2 linked regions of the Homo sapiens genome follow. The protein of the gene in region 1 purifies or fractionates together with the protein of each later gene. This does not show direct contact. Each region holds a gene or a part of one and is shown in the gene's direction. Other genes may lie near its edges. The genes, in order: CGN and PPP1R9A.

What was found.
Region 2: the proteins of CGN (region 1) and PPP1R9A purify together in Homo sapiens (affinity purification with mass spectrometry; 2 studies listed by BioGRID and IntAct, with this or other methods). This does not show direct contact.

What each region holds. Positions count from the first base shown.
Region 1 is NC_000001.11:151,520,654-151,528,611, forward strand, and holds part of CGN (cingulin), read left to right. Parts: coding exon 1-38; intron 39-2,780; coding exon 2,781-2,908; intron 2,909-3,572; coding exon 3,573-3,705; intron 3,706-4,020; coding exon 4,021-4,233; intron 4,234-4,988; coding exon 4,989-5,137; intron 5,138-6,321; coding exon 6,322-6,454; intron 6,455-7,177; exon of another isoform or gene 7,178-7,285; intron 7,286-7,958. UniProt on the Homo sapiens protein: Probably plays a role in the formation and regulation of the tight junction (TJ) paracellular permeability barrier.
Region 2 is NC_000007.14:95,246,250-95,254,207, forward strand, and holds part of PPP1R9A (neurabin-1), read left to right. Parts: intron 1-305; coding exon of another isoform or gene 306-362; exon of another isoform or gene 363-733; intron 734-750; coding exon of another isoform or gene 751-838; intron 839-1,223; coding exon 1,224-1,277; intron 1,278-3,776; coding exon 3,777-4,006; intron 4,007-5,512; coding exon 5,513-5,609; intron 5,610-5,709; coding exon 5,710-5,881; intron 5,882-7,958. UniProt on the Homo sapiens protein: Binds to actin filaments (F-actin) and shows cross-linking activity. Binds along the sides of the F-actin. May be involved in neurite formation. Inhibits protein phosphatase 1-alpha activity.

The sequences.
Region 1 (7,958 bases):
TGGAGGAGCTACAGCGAAAGCTGGATGAAGAGGTGAAGGTAAGGAAAGGTTAGAGGTGCCGGAGGCATGAAGGAAAACAGGGAAAAAGCCTTGGCCTGGAGATGGGCTGAGCTGACCCTTCTAAGCAATGGAACAAGCATGTTTGTGTCTTATGAGACAAGAGACAAGAATGTGTACTAATTCCAGGAAGGACTTCTGGGGTTCTGTGGGGGTTAGGGAGGCAGAGCACATTAGGAATCTACCTACCTTCCATTCCACTCCCTTTGGGAGTTCCCATCCTGGCTCTGCCCCTTACTAGCTATATAAAACTTAAGAAAATTACTTACATTCTCTGTGCCTCAATTTTTTTTTATCATTATCATAATAATGGCAATAGTAGTAGCTATCATTTATTGAGTATAATTTTGGTAGTATGTACTGTCCTGGGTACTGTAATCATTATAGTTACCCTGTGAATACCTATTCTGGACCCTTTTCTGATGAGAAAACTGAAGATCAGAGAGGCTAAGTAAATTGCCTATGGTAGTAAGTTGCAGAGAGGAATGAAAAAATCCGGGTCAGTCTTATTCTAAAGCCAGTGTACCCTTTTTAAAAACATGTCTTCTGCCTTTCATCATATTGGTTTGTGTGTAGTTGGTGCTCAATAAATGTTGGATTGTAACTTCCCTTGTCTTTTGGAAATCACTGTAGTGTAATGATTAAGTGATTGGCTGTGGAGCCAAACTAACTGGGTTCAAATCCTGGTTCTGTTACTTGTTGGCTGTGTAACTGACCTTGGGCAAGTTCTTTAAATGTTCTAAGCCTCTGTTTCCTAAATTGTAAAGTGGGGATTATGATAGTACTATATTAATTAACTATTGCTGTGTAACAAATTACCCAAAACTCAATAGCTTTAAACAAACATTTCCCAGCCGGGCGCAGTGGCTCACACCTGTAATCCTTTGGGAGGCTGAGGCAGGCAGATCACCTGAGGTTGGGAGTTTGAGACCAGCCTGACCAACATGGAGAAATCCTGTCTCTACTAAAAATACAAAATTAGCCTGGTATGGTGGCACATGCCTGTAATCCCAGCTACTTGGGAGGCTGAGGCAGGAGAATTACTTGCACCCGGGAGGTGGAGGTTGTGGTGAGCTGAGATCCTGCCATTGCACTCCAGCCTGGGCAACAAGAGTGAAACTCTTTCTCAAAAAAAAAGCATTTCCCAGAGTCTGAGGATGAAGAACCTGGGATCAGCTTAACAGGGTAATTGTGGCTCTGAGCCTGTTATAAGGTTCCAGTCCAGCTTCTGGCTGTGGCCAAAAGAAGTAAATTGGAGGATCTGCTTCTAAAATGGCTTACTCAGGGCCAGGCATGGTGGCTTACGCCTATAATCCCAGCACTTTGGGAGGGCAAGGTGGGAGGACCACTTGAACCCAGGAGTTTGAGACCAGCCTGGGCAACATAGTGAGAACCCGCCTCTACAAAAAATTAGCCAGATGTGATGGCATGTGCCTGTAGTTCCAGCTACTTAGGAGACTGAAGTGGGAGGATTTTTTGAGCCCAGGAGGTTAAGACTGCAGTGAGCTGTGATTGCACTGCTGCACTCCAGCCTGGGTGCCAGAGCAAGACCCTGTCTCAAAAAAATATAAATAAGTGAATGAAGCAAACAAAACCAGTTTAATGAATAAGATAGACAAAACCAGCTTAATTGGCTGGGTGCAATGGCTCACACCCATAATCCCAGCCCTTTGGGAGGCTGAGGTGGGTGGATCACCTGAGGTCAGGAGTTTGAGACCAGCCTGGCCAACATGGTGAAACCCTGTCTCTACTGAAAATACAAAAATTAGTTGGGCATGGTGGCAGGCATCTGTAATCCCTGCTGCTTGGGAGGCTGAGGCAGGGAGACTTGCTTGAACCTGGGAGGCAGAGGTTGCCATGAGCCGAGATTGCGCCACTGCACTCCAGCTTGGGCAACAGAGCGAGACTCCATCTCAAAAAACAAACAAACAAAAAAAACAAAAAACCAGGCCGGGCGCTGTGGGAGGCTGAGGTGGACAGATTACCTGAGGTCGGGAGTTTGAGACCAGCCTGACCAACATGGAGAAACCCTGTCTCTACTAATAATACAAAAATTAGCCAGGTGAGGTGATGCATGCCTGTAATCCCAGCTACTTAGGAGGCTGAGGCACGAGAATTGCTTGAACCCGGGAGGTGGAGGTTGCGGTGAGCTGAGATCTCGCCATTGCACTCCAGCCTAGGCAAGAGCAAAACTCCATCTCAAAACAAAACACCAAGAAAAAAAAAAAATCAATAAAAATAATAAAAACCCAGCTTAATCAAATGGCTGTTGGTTGTAAACCTCAGTTCCTGGCTGTTTGGCCTTCCTCACAGAGCTACTTTTGAGTATCCTCACAATATAACAGCTATTTTTTTCCCAGAGTGAGGGATCCAAGAGAAAAGCTGCAATGCCTTTTTATGACCTAACATCAGAATTTACTCATCACGTCCTCCTTTTTCTGTTTGTTAGAAGGAAGCCCCTAAGTCAAGCCCGTGCTCGAGGCAAACAGAATTAGGCTTTATCTTTTGAAAGAAATGTCAGATAATTTGTGAACATATTTTACATCATCACAAGTACCAAGGCTAGTTATGAGGATTAGATGTGGATAATACACATAAGGTCCTAAGTATAGTGTCTATCATACAGCAAGTGTCCAATGAGTGTTAGACATTCCCATTATTCTGAGTCTTTCTGAGAGGCTTTCCCTACCCTCTACCTGCTGTACTCTCATTCCCTTTTACAGAAGCGGCAGAAGCTAGAGCCATCCCAAGTTGGGCTGGAGCGGCAGCTGGAGGAGAAAACAGAAGAGTGCAGCCGACTGCAGGAGCTGCTGGAGAGGAGGAAGGGGGAGGCCCAGCAGAGCAACAAGGAGTGAGTGCAGCTGGTGGCGCACCTCGGGCTGCTTGGGGGCCTAGGCCAGGTTTAGAGGCCACTCCCTCTTTGCCCCTAGGGTTGAAGGAGACAGAAGGAAATCTCCAGAAGCTGAAAGGGGCAGTGTTGGTTTAAGGACAGGATAGGGCCTTTCTCTCTACCTTCTTTATCAATAATGGTGGTAGTGCATGATTTGGAGTTAAGCTACCTGGGTTTGCCTCTGTCTCAGATTCTTAAGCTATAAAATAGACTTAATAATAGTACCTACCTCACAGGATCATTGTAAGGATTCAGTCATCCATTCAGCAGATGTTTCATCAAGAATGCTGTGACAGGCATTAATCTAGGTTCCCAAGACACATCAGTGAACCCTATAGATGAAGGGCTCGCTCTCCAGAAGCTTAGTTTCTACTGAGAGGGAACAGACAGTAAACAAACATATTTTGCAAGTAAATTTGTAACACACGAGAAGGCAGTAAATACAACAGGGTAAGGCAGATCAGGAGGGCCAGGTTGTAGCGGGGCAGGTTGCAAAAATCAGGGGAGGCCTCATCAAGATTTGAAGGAAGGAAGTTTAAATGCATTAATAAATATGAATTAAAATATATGATGCGTTTAGAGAACTGCCTGACACATAGTGTGCAATAATGTTATCTATTATTAGGCTCCAGAACATGAAGCGCCTCTTGGACCAGGGTGAAGATTTACGACATGGGCTGGAGACCCAGGTGATGGAGCTGCAGAACAAGCTGAAACATGTCCAGGGTCCTGAGCCTGCTAAGGAGGTGTTACTGAAGGTAGGGTCTGGGGTCATATGCCCCAGCCTCTGCTTTTTCTCAGTTGGAGCATCCTCAAGTCTGCTCATCCATGGTTTCCCCAAAGTATGAGGAGTGGGTGGCTGATTACAGGTACTCAGTGTGCTTTCAGGTAGATTCAATGGTGTGTTGGGACTAGAGTTAGGATAAAGGAAACCTATCATTCTGGGCTCCAGTACTGGTACTAGAGCACCTGGTACTGTGCCTAATACGATAAATATTTTTTGACTCAGTGAATTGATAAACAGATGGATTCTAATATGGTCACCCCTGTACTTCTTCCTTTATTTTCTCCAGGACCTGTTAGAGACCCGGGAACTTCTGGAAGAGGTCTTGGAGGGGAAACAGCGAGTAGAGGAGCAGCTGAGGCTGCGGGAGCGGGAGTTGACAGCCCTGAAGGGGGCCCTGAAAGAGGAGGTAGCCTCCCGTGACCAGGAGGTGGAACATGTCCGGCAGCAGTACCAGCGAGACACAGAGCAGCTCCGCAGGAGCATGCAAGATGCAACCCAGGCATGTGACAAGAGCAGGGTCTGAGAGAGGAGGGCACTGCTGGAGAACAAGGCTGCCTTGGGATCTTGGACTTTTGGACTTTTCATGGTTGCAACTGGGAACTCCCCCTCTCCTCCTAAAGGACACAGTGAGATCTGCTGAAAACCTTGGGCAGGAAAACTATAGGGGCAGAGGGAGGGAGTACAGGCCAGAAGTACCTTGAGGTTGTGTGACAAAAGTCCCAAGGGGGACTGGGTGCGGTAGCTCATGCATGTAATCCCAGCACTTTGGGAGGCTGAGGCGGGTGGACTGCTTGAGCTCAGGAAGTTAGAGACCAGCCTGGGTAACATGGAGAAACCCCATCTCTGCCAAAAATACAAAAACTTAGCTGGGTGTAGTGATGCGTACTTGTAGTCCTAGCTACTTGGGAGGCTAAGGCAGGAGAATCGCTTGAACCAAGGAAGCGGAGGTTGCAGTGAGCCGAGATCATGCCATTGCACTTCACCCTGGGCAACACAGCGAGACTCTGTCCCCCTAAAAATAAAAAGTCCCAAGGGGAAATAACTGGGGAGGTTTCCTGTAGATGATAGAGGGGTGGACTGTGACTTGAGGAGAGAATCTCTGCTAGCATTGTACCAGGTACCACAAGAGTGTCAGGGGGTGCACCTGGCATGGTGCCCTCTGGGTCTAAGCCTTTCCTTGTACACACTCACACTTTGATTTGAAGTGACCTCTTCCCTCTGAGCCTTCTGGTGTCCAACTCTCCCCTTCTCTAGGACCATGCAGTGCTGGAGGCCGAGAGGCAGAAGATGTCAGCCCTTGTGCGAGGGCTGCAGAGGGAGCTGGAGGAGACTTCAGAGGAGACAGGGCATTGGCAGAGTATGTTCCAGAAGAACAAGGAGGATCTTAGAGCCACCAAGCAGGAGTAAGGACATTGGCCCTCTCAGAAATACCCATGATTCATATGCCACTTCCTTTCTTTTTTTTAATTTTTAATTTTAATTTTAATTTTAATTTATTTTTTGGGACAGAGTTTCGCTCTTGTTTCCCAGGCTGGAGTGTCATGGCACGATCTTGGCTCACTGCAACCTCTGCCTCCTGAGTTGAACAGATTCTCCTGCCTCAGCCTCCCAAGTAGCTGGGATTACAGGCGCATGCCACTACGCCCAGCTAATTTTTGTATTTTTAGTAGAGATGAGGTTTTACCATGTTGGCCAGGCCAGTCTCGAACTCCTGACCTCAGGTGATCTGTCCACCTTGCCTCCCAAAGCACTGGGATTACGGGTGTGAGCCGCTGCGCCTGGCCCCCTTTCTCCTTTTTTTTTTTTTTTGAGATGGAGTCACACTCTGTTGCCCAGGCTAGAGTGCAGTGGTGCAGTCTTGGCTCACTGCAGCCTCCGCCTCCTGGGTTCAAGCGATTCTCCTGCCTCAGCCTCCCGAGTAGCTGGGATTATAGGCGCCTGCCACTAGGCCTGGGTTTTTTGTATTTTTAGTAGAGACGGGGTTTCACCATATTGGCCAGGCTGGTCTTGAACTCCTGACTTCGTGATCCTCCCACCTCGGCCCCCCAAAACGCTGGGATTACAGGCGTGAGCCACTGCACCCAGTCCCTTTCTTCTTTTTTTTGAGACAGGGTCTTGCTCTGTTGCCCAGGCTGGAGTGCAGTGGCACAGTCTGGGCTCACTGCAACCTCCACCTCCTGGGCTCAAGCCATCCTCCCACCTCAGCCTCCCGAATAGGTGGGACTATAGGCATGCACCACCACACTTGGCTAATTTTTGTATTTTTTGTAGAGACGGGGTTTCATTATGTTGCCCAGGCTGGTCTTGAACTCCTGGGCTCAAGTGATCCATCTGCCTTGGCCTCCCAAATTGCTGGGATTACAGGCATGAGCCACCATGCCTGGCCCACTTCCTTTCTATCTATGGTATGCTCTTACTCTCCCATTTCTCAAACTGCTCTTTTCCACGTTCACCTTCCTTCCTCTTGAGAGTTGGTGCCCAGCGTGTTGGCCTCCAGAGAGGTGGCTTTTATTGTCATGCTAACCTCCCCCAGGCATGTGGCCTTACTCTGTTCCCTTTCCCCTTTATTTCACCTTGCCTGGCTCAGACTCCTGCAGCTGCGAATGGAGAAGGAGGAGATGGAAGAGGAGCTTGGAGAGAAGATAGAGGTCTTGCAGAGGGAATTAGAGCAGGCCCGAGCTAGTGCTGGAGATACTCGCCAGGTTGAGGTGCTCAAGAAGGTATTTGGGAATTGGGGGGCAGAATGGTAGGTAGGGGTGATGAACACCTGCCTTACCTCTCCATGAGGGCCTTCTTGCTAGTGGGGCTATCTCCTGTGTGCTTGGTTTCCAGGCCTCATCCTGCCTGCTCAGCTTGATCTCTTTCCAGCACAGCAGCACCAGTCTCCTCATTGAGCATAGAGGTTTCTAATGGAAAGTGCTCTCAGAACCCAGGTTGGGGTATAGCCAGAGGCTGCTGGCCGACTCCCAAGAGACGTCATGGGTAGCAGCATTTAGGTGGATTTGTGAAACTCCAGGATGATTTTTGCAGGCTCAGAAATCTAATTTGGTCAGCATGGCAAAAGCTGCTTTGTCTTTCAGAGGGGTCTCTAACTACATTTATGAAAAAATGTTTACCATTAGAATTTCAGTTTATTAATTTACATTGAGAAATATCATCACATGGACTGGAATACTTGTGTTGGCATGGCCTGGTTACTAATGTAACAAAACTAATTAGCAAAAGAAAAATAGCAGAGTATATGGTATTACATTGAAGATTCACTACATATTATATAACCCTTTAGCCTAATTATGGTACTTTCTGAATTTCAGAAGTAGCTAATAGCTAATAATTAGAACCAGAACTCCTATTTTAATTTTCTTTTTAAAAGAAATCAGAGCTGTGCCAGCATTTATTGTGTCACACATTTTGGTTTTATACACACACACACACACACACACACACACACGAAAGACAAGTGGCAGCTGCAGGGATTGTGCTGACCTGTTCTGTCAAAGTCTCTCCAGGTTGCTCTTGCATGCAGTTGGAGATCCCATGGCCACACTATATATATATATATATTTTTTTTTTTTTTTTTTTTTTTGAGACGGAGTCTCACTCTGTCACCCAGGGTGGAATGCAGTGGCGTGATCTCGGCTCACTGCAAGCTCCGCCTCCTGGGTTCACGCCGTTCTCCTGCCTCAGCCTCCCGAGTTGCTGGGACTACAGGCGCCCACCACCACGCCCGGCTAATTTTTTTTGTATTTTTACAAAAAAAATACACGTACTCAGTGTTTCACCGTGAAACATGGTTTCACCGTGTTAACCAGGTTGGTCTTGATCTCCTGACCTTGTGATCCGCCCTCCTTGGCCTCCCAAAGTGCCGGGATTACAGGCGTGAGCCACCGCACCCAGCCTCACACTGTATTTTTTTTAAACAACCAGCCTTACTAGCCATACCTTCATGTACTCTCCCTTCATGGTATTTTTTTTTTTATGGAGTTATATTTTACATGCTATAAAAGTCATCTTTGTGTACAATCCAATGGGTTTTTTTTTTCTTTTTGAGATGGAGTCTTACTCTGCTACCCAAGCTGGAGTGCAGTGGCACAATCTCGGCTCACTGCAACCTCTGCCTTCTGGTTCAAGCCATTCTCCTGCCTCAGCTTCCCAAGCAGCTGGGATTACAGGCACACACCACCACGCCCGGCTAATTTTTGTATTTTTGGTAGAGACAGGGTT
Region 2 (7,958 bases), on another chromosome or scaffold:
TGTGGTCTCCACAGGTTCACATTGCTAGTCTGAAAACTCCACATTTCTGTCCTTCTGTCAGACTCACTCACTTCTGATAAGAAAACCTCTTAGCCTTACTTGATTACAGTAATAGTAAAAGTTTATGGTCCCTCATGTACAGTCTTAAATCCAAAACGCTCCCAGTCTTTTTTGTAATTTTGTGTCAAACTAATTTAGTGGTACAACCTGACCTAACAGGATGCTATTTACAGTCTTCATGTACCTCGCTTAGTGGGAATATTCATGTTTGGTGGCAAAAATAATTCATGTGTTTTTGACTATAGAGTGCCTCCAAAGACCCTGCTGTGGATAATAAGCAATTTGTAGAAGATACATCGTAACTACTTTTCTGAAGTTGGAAGAATGCTGACTTCCAAAAACATCTGGCCCCAAGGATTTCAGACAAGAAATTGTGAACCCATAAGTTGTTTTTCTTAAATTTGGGAGTATTTATTGATCCCCTAAGGAAACGAATGATTCGTTCAGTTCCTTCTTCTTCCCTTACAAAGAAAACAAAGCGGGGGGAGGGACAAGCAAAACAAATGTAAACTGTGACTCTTATTGCTAATAAGCTGTGGCAGAAGCTGTTGGGGGTCTGAGTCTTCAAAAGGAGCAGATCTTTTGGAGGACAGAAATCTGGATCTGTACCTTTCCTGCAATTAAAAGAAAAAAATATGTATCAGAGATTTCCCCGTGCAACTGCAGTCCTCCTCCTCTCTCCCTTTGCAGTGGAGCTGCTGATCAGAATGTGCTTGCAACTCACAGGACCATAGCGCCACCTTTCTTGCAGATTTGGAATAAATCTTCACACGTCCAGGTTTGGAATTAAATCACACTATCAGCTCACTTGCCTGTGTATGCCGTTCAGTTAGCTAGACTTAGCAAGGAAACAGTTCCTTGACGCTCAAATCATAAAGGAAGAGCTGCAAAGAGGGCAATAAAAAGTGTTTTCTTCTCTTGGTCCCTGAGCAATTAAATTGGTAACCTAATCTGATGTTAGGGAGTATAGACCATAAACTGTGTTTAATTAGTTTGCACCCAGTGTCATTTCACACAGTAGACACTTTAATTTACAACTTGCTGCACTGCAGCACTTTTCTAGGCCTTTTACTATGTAATAAGGCATTCTTGTAGCTGCTGAGGCTTTACAAATATAGATACACTTTCTTAGTTCAGATTTTTTCTTTCTTTTCAATTTTCAGTTGCAAATCAAACATGCAGTTACAGAAGCAGAGATTCAAAAATTGAAGACCAAGGTAAGCACCGAAACATGGTGTTTGAATTTTACTTTTTAAACTTCAGATACTATGAATAAATCCAATCCTAGGACTAAAGGTTTTGTCCCTGTATATTTGAAAGAATGCAAATGTGATAGATTCATTTTCACTGTCAGGTACGTAGACAAACCTGCCAGTGAGAGCAAACACCCACATCCCCCTCAGTGCAAATAACACAATATTTTAGATATATATATTTATGTATTTGCACATATGTGGCCTCTGAGATTTCCTTAAAAAGTAATATTTTTAATGGTTCAAGTATGCAAAGTATGTTTTGATTACTAATTCCTTAAGCAAAGCTACTATATCTCCTCTTCACTTACCTTATTATAAATAGATTTAATCATTTGTAGGAACAAATTTAGTATAGCACATCAATGTTTTATAAACCATTTCTAATTTCTAATAATTAAATCTTATAAACTTAATACATGCATAATTTAAGTGCCAGGTACTACTGGAAATTTTTAGTTGTTTGGTTCACATAATTTAAATTTGTGGGGGAGAAAAGGTCTTGATAAAAGGGAGTATGTATTATTAGTCTATATATTTTCATTGACAAACTTTAAGGCACTCGTATGAGACACAATTCTAGCAATTTTGTTTAGTTTTATCAAATATACAATTTCAAAGATTTAAAAATATATTTTAAATTACTTTTAAAGCAATATTCTTTATTGTTTCAATGGTCTTTTAAAAATTAAAACATAATTACCCTCCCCCGCCCCCAATCACCACCACCACTACCACTAATGATCTCTTTTGTTGTTCACATTGAACACTTGTTTTGGTTTCTCCGTGTGTTTTAAATGGAGATGAATTAGCAAGGCTATTTTGGTTAAATGCTATTCTCAGCTAATTCACTCTGCAGCTCTTTAGTCAAAATACGACTATACATCATTCACGGTGTTAGTCCAGCTCCGTGAATAATAATTTTAAATTAGTGGCGGTTGCTAAATAAACAACTTGATACAAAACATTGCTTAATAAAAGATGCAGTAAATAACCTATTCCTGTTTTAAATTGTCATTGTCTCTTGACATAGAAAGAATTGAAGATTTTTTAAATTGTTGTTTTAAAAAGATCTCTTTTTCCCTGTGATTGTGTTTTAATGGCGCTTATGTATTAGACTATAGACATTTAACTTAGAAAATACTATAAATTAGCATTTTATATTTTTTCATCATTATATTGGCATGTAATATCCACAGATTAGCACTTTATTATGATTCTTTATTATTCATTTTGATAATAGAATTCCTAATCTTGACATTGTTTTGGATGCTTTCTAACTTTGTAAACTGTTTTGCAAATGTGTTTAGTTAAAAATATTTGCAAAAACATAGATGTGTGTGTATATAAATACATGTTTACTTTTGCTAAGTGCTATATGATTTTGAACATTGATAGTTTATAATGACTTTGCATCCTTTTGAACTTTAAAGAAGGCATATAAAGTAGATAAAGTACCAGTTTGAAGGCCAGAGAGTTATTGGGAATGACTTTTGAGCCCTCACCTAAATGATCAGTATTGGATTTCTGTAGAAATGAGGGTATTAGACTAGTTTACTATCTATTCCTAAGAGTCCCTAGAAGCAGAAAAACAAAAAGCTGGTTATGGCTTTCTGTTCCGTGGGAGGGAATTAAATTAACCAAGCAAAAATTTATACTTTTACTTACACTATCTTTTATATTTTTATGGGAATTGAGGTTTATAAAGCTTGAGAAATTCATTACACTACATGTAAAATAATGAGCTATAGAATATGTTCATGTTCCTTGAAATAAAGAATGAAATAAGATCACCAAAAGGGTTAAAAGCAGAGTGAAAGTGGTTAATGTTTATCAGATGATTCTTATGCCCAAGGAGCTATTTCAAGCATTCTGATGTGTTATATCACAATTCTGTTGTATGGATGATGTAATTGAGTCTTGGAGAACTTCAATTACATGTCCAAGGTTTAATGGCCAATAATGACAGAACTGGGATTCAAATCCATGCTGAATGACTCCAGAGATCCCCTCTTAACCATTAAGCCATACTGTGCTTCTAACTCCTCTCTCCTCCCTGGCCCTCTCCACTCCCTTTTTAGTTAATTTTTTATATATAATTATATATTTTTTAAAAACTCTCAAAACATGTTGACATTCGTTGGATATATCAAACTCTGAAACATCTTTTACTGCTCACAGAATTTCAGATCACCTGGTGTGATGGAAATATCGTGTGAGGTGGAATCCAATCCATGTTTTATCACTTATCAAATGTGTGACCTTGGACAAATCATTTCACTTTTCAAGGCTTCCATTTTATCATCTGTGGAATTATAAAAATAATACCTGCTTTTCTCATCTCAAGTGGATTCAGTGATTGTTTATGATAATAGAACTTGATCTACAACATGCTATAAAAATGAGAGATTTTTGCCACAAAAGTGGCCAAATTATCTTTGCCTTGACGTTTGCTTTCTCCAGCTGCAGGCAGCAGAAAATGAGAAAGTGAGGTGGGAACTAGAAAAAACCCAACTCCAACAAAACATAGAAGAGAATAAGGAAAGAATGTTGAAGTTGGAAAGCTACTGGATTGAGGCCCAAACATTATGCCACACAGTGAATGAGCATCTCAAAGAGACTCAAAGCCAGTATCAGGCCTTGGAAAAGAAATACAACAAGGCAAAGAAGTTGATCAAGGATTTTCAACAAAAGTAAGCCGCTTCTAATAACTAAAGAATAGTTATGTTTGTCTAAAGAAGGTTTATGTCCAATAATTTTGTAATATCTAGTGGAACAGAAAAGATGACCTTAGAGATATCTTTCCTATCCAGGAGCATAGTTACAGCATAAATACACATTAAGTTTTGGAAGTCACTTCTATCACTTTTTCATGAGATTATGTTTTGTATATTTTATAGTTTTTGGCTGCCAGGGCCTCTTTGCTATTTTTGATAATTAATCGTTGTTTATAACTGTTAAAACATCTGAATTTCTTTATTCTTTTTGAAACACCTCTATGATTTAGAAACAAGAAGCCCAGCGGAAAGTCATGTAGAATGACTGACTATTGGATGTGGAGCACGCAAGCCACAGCTGGGGCCTGAATCAGGCTGCTCCTCTCTATTCTTAGATCAGTAACTACAGAATTTCCCACTACAGACAGTGCACATATCGACTAGCAAGGCCCCCTGCCCTGCCACTCTGCATTTCTCAGCTGTTGAGAGAATCAGGAGGGCCTCCTTTCACTGCAGGGAGAGAGACCATTACCACATTCTGCTTTTGATTTTCAACAGCTGTTTCTGAGCTACTGCTCCTTTGCTTCCATCTCTTGGATCTCGGTGTAATGTCACGGAGACTGACCACGGAGATTTTTACTAGATTTTTTTCATCAGTTACTTCTGGCTAGTTAGAACAAATAAGTAGTACCAGTACCTTTTCTGGTCTTCCATGCCAAGCCTCAGAAGCTAAGCATATATGTAAGATTAACCATATTTCTTTTATTTCCTATTATGTGGAAGAATGTTTTTAATATTTAAAAGAGTTTTGCTATCAAAAGTTTCTTGTTAAAAGGGGAGTAATTATTCTCTGTGACTATAAATTCAATACATCACTGTTTTAACTATTTGCCAAACTCTTTTTCATGAAATAATTTTATAGTAAATTTTGCTAAATTTGCATATTCTATTCCAGGTTTTCAAAATGGAACTGTTTCTCTTCTCCCCATATTATCCTTAGGTCTATAAGTGAGTGCCCCTCTCGATGTTTCTGACCCACCCAGCCCCCTCTTCACTGTTATTCATAGAAATCTTACAATTATCTTTTTCGAACTCTTATCTAGTTACATCAGTTTACTATACTATGCTTATGACATTGGAAAAATGGAATTATTTCTACCTGACAAGTAATTATCTCCACTAAATTACCCAATGTGGGTCATTAGTGCAGTCTTTCCTATCTAAATATGTATGGGTGTTCTAGAATCAGGAGCTACGAAAGAAAATTATAGTAAGCAGAATCGAATCATTTTTCTTTGCCTTGTGACCCATTAAAGATGTTTTAGTTTCTTTCATTACTATACTTTTTCCTCTAACTGATTGAATGTTGTCCATTTAAATAACTGTTCAGTTGCTTATCCTACTATGCAGTTTATTGTTTCAGATAAGAACTTTCATTTATTGAGTGTATGATATAATCAGAACTATTATTTTCTTCTTAAGAGAGCTTGATTTCATCAAAAGACAGGAAGCAGAAAGAAAGAAAATAGAAGATTTGGAAAAAGCTCATCTTGTGGAAGTGCAAGGCCTCCAAGTGCGGGTAAGTTGTGTTCCCTAAGACACTAAATAATAAGATGGTTTTGCTGTACTTGGAGGGGAGCGCTAGTTTAGAGTTTTATAAATGGATTTGTTTTTCCTAGATTAGAGATTTGGAAGCTGAGGTATTCAGGCTACTGAAGCAAAATGGGACTCAAGTTAACAATAATAACAACATCTTTGAGAGAAGAACATCTCTTGGTGAAGTCTCTAAAGGGGATACCATGGAGAACTTGGATGGCAAGCAGACATCTTGCCAAGATGGCCTAAGTCAAGGTTTGTTTAACCCAACCACAAAAATCATTTTTGATGACTGTGTAATTTGGCCTTTTATTTTTCTTTTTCTGACCCAGAGATTTAAAAGTTGGAAATACCTTCCTACTATGGGAAAGAAGAAAAGGCTTATCAAAATAGGAGTCAATCATTTTAGCTCTCGTCTTATCAAAAATAAATACTTTAATATGTAGCATTAACAAATCACAACTAAAGATAAGCCAAATACTATTTTAAAATCATCATACAATTGACAGATTTAATAAACTGCCTTACAAATTGTAGTTCATCCTATCTAGGATGAACTACACTACTTATGTGTTAATGACTAAGGTTTAGATTTTTTTTTTTTTTTTTTTTTTGAGAGTCTCACTCTGTCATCCAGGCTGGAGTACAGTGGTGCAATCTCAGCTCACTACAACCTTCGCCTCCCAGGTTCAAGCGATTCTCATGCCTCAGCCTCCCCAGTAGCTGTGACTATAGGCATGTGCTACCACGTCTGGCTAATTTTTGTATTTTTAGTAGAGGTGGGCTTTTGCCTTGTTGGCCAGGCTGGTCTCGAACTCCTGACCTCAGGTGATCCACCTGCCTTGGCTTCCTAGAGTGCTAGGATTACAGGCATGAGCCACCGCGCCCAGCCAAGCTTTAGAATGTTTAAGTCACTAGAATAAAGATCTTTTTCATAATATCAGAAGGCAGACTGCTGCTTTCAGCACTTGAGATTCATGTAGTTAACGAAGTCCATATAGTTTTGTGCTTTTACCATGGTGTACTGTGTATACTTCTTAGGTCTTTCATGTCAAAGACCAAGTAAGACCAAAACACTGGAAACATTTGGTATTATAAATGATTATCTTCATTCATACACCAACCATAAATAAATTACTTATGTTCTTACACACACAACATTCTTAGATTGCACGTGTATGAACATGAATGACTGTTTTAATATCTGTGGTATATTTGCAAATTAGAAAACACATAATAATTATAAAGATAAATACACAGGAATGTGTGGCTTCATCTTTTTAAATATATACATAGTAGTCCCTGGAAAATGAAAATAAAAGAATGTGGTGCAGCAGGGTTGTCATGACAGGACCGACAACTCAGAGGCAACACTTTGACGTGCAGTAAAACCCTGTTATAATGGGCTTTTTAGTTTTTTCGTGATCTTTCTCACATATTAAACTGTCTCCAGTGAAGTTTTCCTGATAAGCAAGTGTTTATATCCTATCATGAACTTTTAGAACTAAGCTCTTAGCCATTAAAAATGGAAAGGATTAGAAATCTTCATTTAAAATTAAAATGATATCTAGAGATTTGAATCCATTCACTGGGTTTATATCCTTCTAATGGGTTTTCCCTAAATAGGATGTAATTTATAAATAGTGCCTCTTAGGCAGCTGAAAGAGGAGGATTTAGCATTAGCATTACGACTAAGTGAGGAGCTGTGTGACTTCAGGAAGAGTATTTAGCTTCTCTGGGTTGATATTACTGTGCATATTATTTTAAAAGTAGTATTTCCTTCTTCACCACTTTAAGGCCTGTTTTGAAACTATATGGTTTAGTCTTTGAAGCCAAAAAAGTAATTTATTTGAGCTCTTATGGAATTATAATTTTTATACCTGGAACACTATAAGATTGATATCTAAAGAAAAACATCAGGAATCAAACCAAATTTTTTACCTTTTTGAATATTTTAATTTTTAAAAAATTATAGTTTATATATAATAAATACATATTCCTGCTGTGGCATACTCAAAGTATGAGCAGTATCTAGTAGCTTTTCATTTCTATTCATTTCTTTCAGTTTAGAAATCTGTATCTTTTCAAACATATAATTAATGGTGTTTATTAAATTATATGACTACAGAAGATCAACACACTATACTATTAACATGCTGATTTGGATCAAAACCTTACATTTCATCTGAACCCTTTTTCTATTCTACACCCTCCATTTTGCCACATAATTATCAGTTTCCCTAGCAACACTGTTGGTTCACAGTGAGATGTGGAGACTACTAATTCTTACTGAAGCCAATCCATGCTTGTGCAGTAGAGGTAGAATCAGTCA